Linked DNA regions of Homo sapiens: region 2 is linked to region 1. Evidence: fine-mapped expression QTL. A gene starts in region 1. The other region holds a variant in brackets. All regions are shown on one strand. Distances are from middle to middle.

What was found.
Region 2: its variant is fine-mapped to the expression of TP53RK-DT in pancreas (GTEx, PIP 0.96).

Annotation. Positions count from the first base shown.
Region 1 is chr20:46,688,147-46,691,057 of GRCh38, forward strand. TP53RK-DT (TP53RK divergent transcript) reads left to right here and starts at 1,153. Exons shown (of 1, transcript NR_186399.1): 1 at 1,153-2,143. TP53RK (TP53 regulating kinase) reads right to left here and starts at 1,298. Exons shown (of 2, transcript NM_033550.4): 1 at 986-1,298. The coding sequence starts at 1,268. RefSeq lists a silencer at 877-926 and an enhancer at 1,157-1,746.
Region 2 is chr20:46,847,408-46,850,318 of GRCh38, forward strand. No RefSeq gene overlaps it. Among named protein-coding and RNA genes, the nearest start is that of EYA2, 46 kb to the right of the region's middle. The variant G/A (reference allele first, on the strand shown) is at 1,241.

The DNA.
Region 1 (2,911 bases):
TTAACGAAACAGATCATGAGGCTGAAAACAGAAATATGAATACACAAATAACTTCATGAAATCTTAAGTCTCTGAAAGGGCAGCAATGTGTCCGCTTGTTGGCTACTGAATATCCCCCACCCAGATCTCCCAGCACTTAACAATGTCCTGGTACCCACTGGTACCTAAAAAATACTGATAAAAGAAAGGCAAGAAGCGTAAAAGTAAAAAGCCAGGGCTTCTGAGTCAGAGGCATAAGGAGCTGAGGGCCTGGACCGGCCACTTAGTAACCGTGTAACCTTGGGCAAGTTACTTCTCTCTGAGTGTCACTTTCTCATCTGAGGACAAAGTTTATGGTGCTGGCGCACAATGATGTTTAATGAAAAAATAGGCAATTTAATGAAATCCAACATTTATTGGGCACTATGTGCCAGGCACACATTTGAACATAATACGTGACACACATACCTCCTCTAATGGTCACAACATCCCTATGACATGGATACTGCTACTATGTCTCCCATTTTACAGGTGAGAAAACCGAGGCTGAGAGGCTAAATAACTTGTTGAAAGGCTACACAAGCAGCAGAGTTAGTATTTCAACCCAGGGAGCCTGGCTCCAGTGGGGCAAGTACTTGTCATTACATGTTTCTTAAAACTAATAAATGGAAAGATAATGATCGAAAATTGAAACGAGTCAAATGGGGAAACCAAGGCTCAGGGAAGTTAAACATGTTCAACATTGAGCAATAATGACAGATCCCAGATTTGAACCAGGCAGAACGGCCTCAGGACAAAAGCTTGACGCTGCATGGCCACGTGGTTTCTTAAGACTTAACGAATGAAAAAAGGGATGAAAGAATAACATTTCCGAAAGGCCGGACACCGCAGAAGGCACAGAAGGAGAAACTGAGGGAAATCCAGCTTCGGAGCGCAGGGGAGTCCCTCACCCGCCCAGGCCCCAGAGCCTCGGGGCCGCCCACGCCGGGATCCCGGCCCACCTTACCAGCGCGGCGACAGCGGAGGAGCGCCCGGGCCTCCTGCACCGTCCGCCGTCTGCCAAGCCGCGCCTCCAGCGCCGGGTGCCGGTAGCCCTTGGGGAAGCGGTGCTTGATCACCGCCGCGCGGCCCTGGAAGCGGCCACGGAACACGCGCGCCTCGGCACCCTGCTTCACCAGCTCCAGGCCGCTCAAGAAGCGGCTGCTCCGCTCCCGGGCTGCGGCCAGAGCCTCAGCCTCCGGGGCGGGCTCCTCGCCATCGGCCGGCGTAGTAGCTCTGGCCGCCGCCATGACTGCTCGGCGCAACAGCTCCAACCGATCAGCTGTCTCTGAAAACTGTCGCGATGCTTCGGCTCGCTTCGGAAATCCTGGGACTTCTTCGGCAATCCTGGGACTTCTTCGGCTACCCGAATGCGTCCACCCCGGACACTTCCGGCCTGTAAGTGGTTACGCCTCCCAACTTTTCGGCTCTCTGAAGCCTGAGGTTCCCTGCAGGAAGGGCTCTTGTGGCCCCGCCTTCCGCCTCTTCGGCTATCTCCGTACACGTTCGGCAACGCTCAGTAAGTGGCTCTTCCCGACTCCTTGGCTCTCCGGAAATCTTCGGTGACTCTCGCAGCCGGCTTTGGGGGCCCACCTCTCAGTTGGTCGTCTCTTTCCGGAAAACTTCGGCGCCTCTCGAGAAAAACGTCGGACGCGCTTTGCTCTCTTCAGAAGTCTCTTCCGGGACAGCTGTACCCTCTAGTAGTCTCTTTTTGGAACTCCTCTTCCCCTGACTCCTACATTCCCCCCAAAATGTGCTCATACAAGTCAGAGTCGGAAGGGTCAGACAATGAACCATGTTTCCGACATCCTCTTAAGTGCTAGGATAACTACCATTTAGTGCATTCAGAAGAAATAAGGTTAAATGATGAAAATCCTTACAGAAAAGAAAATTGAGACTCAGAGCTGGCAGAGGGGGTGGTAAGATGGGGTGGGGAGTGGGGGCTGGGGAATCCGGGAAAGTCTTCCGGAGACAGAACCTAAACTGAATTGGGAATAATTAAACTTTTTCAGTTTCTACCTGTTTCATTACAAAGCTTATAATAACACAGGCTGTAGCAAATTCTTACAATACGGAACTTTGCACACGCACACATAAATAAATAAACTACCTATCCCCCTTGTGACACTGCTGGCCGTTAGTTTCTTTCCAGAATTTTCTTTCATTCAGTGTGCACACTCACACATCGTTGTGGCGTTTTTTCCAACATAAATGACATCATACTGTGGGTTCTTTGGCAACTTGCTTTTCATTTTCCTAAACAATTTATCTCAGACTATATTCCATATCAATACATACAGAGCTACCACGTCCTTCTACCTGGTCAGGCAGTTTCTTGTTGCTAAACAGTTGTTTCCAGTTTGTTGTTTCTCAGGAAAACACTTTACTTACTATTGCCAGTTTATTATAAAAGATAGTATAAAAGATAAAAATGAACAGCCAGATGAAGACGTACATAAGGAAAAGTAAAAATTGTACGTGTTTATCGTAAGTAACATGTTTTGAAATATGTATACATTGTGGAATGGCTAAATCCAGCTAGTTAACGTTACCTAACATACTGATCATTTCGGGGGTGAGGACACTTAAAATCTATTATCTTAGCATTTTTCAAGAATACAACCCATTGTTATTATCTATAGTCACCATGTCGTGCAATAGATTTCATGAATGTTTCCTCCTATCTAACTGAAATTTTGTATCCTTTGACCAACTTCTCAAAATCCTCCCTATCTCCCTCCCCCTACCCCACCGCCTGGTAACCACCATTCTACTCTGCTTGCATGAGTTCAACTTTTCTTACCTTCCTCATATAAGTGAGATCATGGGATATTTGTCTTTCTGTGCCTAGCTTATTTCATTTAACACAATATCCTCCTGTTCCATCCATGTT
Region 2 (2,911 bases), 160 kb after region 1:
CACCACCCTGCCCCAAGGGGACCATGATTCTCAATTTTGTGCTTTCAGTTCAGCTTTTTCTTTTATAGTTTTGTCAAATACATATGCATCCCTAAGCAATATTCGGTAAAATTTTGCTTCTGTGGGGGCTTTGTAAAAATGATATCATATTGTACACAGTTTAAAGAGACAGGTGCTTTTTAAACTCAGCATCATATTTCTAAGATTTTTCCATGTTGTTTCATGCAGCTGTGGTTCATTAATTCTCACTAGACAAAGTTTTTGAGGTGAGTCCACAGGTACGCTGCCTCTGAGGGTACTGCTGATGGGAACAAGCTTTCTGAACAGGATTGGAAGCCACACGCCACTCCCCCAGCACCACCCGCCCTGCCTTGCCACCACTGCTGGTGCTGTTGATGGTGCCGCTGTCATACTGACAGAAGCATCGCCAGGAGCTGGAGAAATGGCTTCTCCTTTCTTGCACCTTCCATTATCCCACTAATGTCTCCCATTGGTAGAACCTACCAAATGTCAGTGCACAGGTATCTAGGAAATGTGGTTAGCAGCTTTCCAAAAGCCCTAGCAGTAAAGAAGAGTTGAGTGTGGGTAAGTAGAGCTGAGAGCCAACCTACATTATCCAGCTCACTCACTGATGTCATTCCCAGGAATTCTTTTTTTTTTTTTTCGAGACGGAGTCTCGCTCTGTCGCCTGGGCTGGAGTGCAGTGGCGCAATCTTGGCTCACTGCAAGCTCCGCCTTCCGGGTTCACGCCATTCTCCTGCCTCAGCCTCCTGAGTAGCTGGGACTACAGGTGCCCGCCACCACGCCCGGCTAATTTTTTCTATTTTTAGTAGAGATGGGGTTTCACCGTGTTAGCCAGGATGGTCTTGACCCCTGACCTCATGATCCGCCCGCCTCAGCCTCCTAAAGTGCTGGGATTACGGGCGTGATCCACGGCACCTGGCCATTCCCAGGAATTCTTGAAGGCTGTTGTTTATTTCATGCTTAGGGAACATTGCAACTCTTTGATTGGAAGAGTTATGTCGCTGAATGCCATGAAATAGCATGAACATTAAGTGGAAACAGTAGGGAAAGGTGGCTATATGCCTCTTTGTCTTTCCTAATACAGAAAATGAAAGGAGCAAATCCTGGCTCTTCCCTCATTGGGCCATGGAGAAATGGTGGGGCTGATTGGAAGGTTACAGCTGTGAAGTCTCCAGTTTTTCACTTTGAAAGAACATAGCCCTGTCTGCCAGCAAAT[G/A]TTTACCAAGCACTTAGATATCTGATGCAGAGAAAACAGTAATGCTTGAAAAGTCAAAGATCTGGTCCATACCTTCAAGGAGATTACAATCTAATTGAAGAGATAAGATATTCACTCATGGAACAAACAGAGAACAAGGAATTCAGTGGTAATAGACACCAAAGATGGTGAGCATGTGGCACACATACCATAACTCTCCATTCCCAGACCCATAGCAGGCATTACTAATCAATCAGATCTTTTTTCTTTCTTGATGAATCTGGATTCAATCACAGAATTCTTTAACACAGTGATTCAGACATTTACTCTTAATTTCTCAAAATTGATAGATGTAGCCCACTATATATAGGTTCAGTAATTTTCGTTAACTAATTGGTCTAATCAATGAAAATTACTAACAGCCTACTATGCACCATTCGCAGACATAGGCACAGTGGTAATTACCACAGGAAGACTTGTGCTTGTGGCTCAGAGTGTAGGCAGAGAATCAAAGAAGCAAACAGAAAATGACAGTGCAGTGGTTTAAGTGCTAATATGTGGAAAACAGAGGGTTCTGTGAATGCACAGAGGAGGGACCCAACCCAGATTTGGGAATCAGGGAGGACTCTAGGCTGATACCTGAAGGATAAACAAAAGTTAACGAAATAAAAGGGAAAGTGTATTCTTCAGGAAGCGTTCAGTTGCAATTGACAGAAACCTAGCTCAAGTTGCTTTAAACAAACAGAGAAATACACATGTGTTCATGTAACTGAAATACATTGGCTCACGTAACTGGAAAGTCCCAGAGTTGTTTGCTTCAGGAATGGCTGGATCTAGGCGCTTGAGTGATGTCATTAGGAATCCATCTCTATCTCTTGAGTCTGCATGCCTCTCTGCAGCTTCATTTCAATCAGGGTACACATTCATGGTGGCAAAGACATTCATGGTGGCAAAGACATTCCTGTGCAGTTCCAGGCTGACATCCTGTCTGCTTAAAACCTCCATAGAAAGGCACCTCACAATAGTGCCAGCAAAAGTCCTGAGGTTGACTCTGCTTTGCCCAGGCTTGATTCTGTTCGACCCCATAGCTTGGTCATACCCACCCACAGTATGCGGATAGAGCAGACTCCCAAGGAGACTGAGGTGCTTTTACCAGGAAAAGAGGGAACTATGCCAGGCCAGGAAAAGGGAGATGAAAAAACTTGATCTCTGCTTGGAAGAAGGAAGCAAAGGAGGGTACCAGGCAGAGAAGCTGTGATGCATCCGAGGAGAAGTTCAGGATGCGATGTGCAGCATCTGAGTGTGGAGTAGAGGGATGAATCTGGAAGGCGGCAGGAGGCAGGTCAGATGAGGCCTCTTAACCACGTTAGGGATCAGCCTTTATCCCAAGCACAGTGAGAAGCCATTTCAGGGCTTTAAGAAGGAGACTGAAGATTCTAAATCGCCCTCACTTTTGATGAGTTAACAGCATTATGGGAAGTGGGGAGAGAAGGAAGAGGCATTAATTTTCAAGATCAGTCCTTAAAGTAACCCCGTCAAAGCAAACCATGTAATTTAGCAAATCACAGTTTCCATTGAAACTTGTTCAGGTAATACGTGCTCCTCCAATTAGTATAACAGCCCAGAGATGCTTTTCCAGGACAAGATGGCCTTTGGGTCATCATGTTCTTTGCTGCAATTCACTCAAGTGAT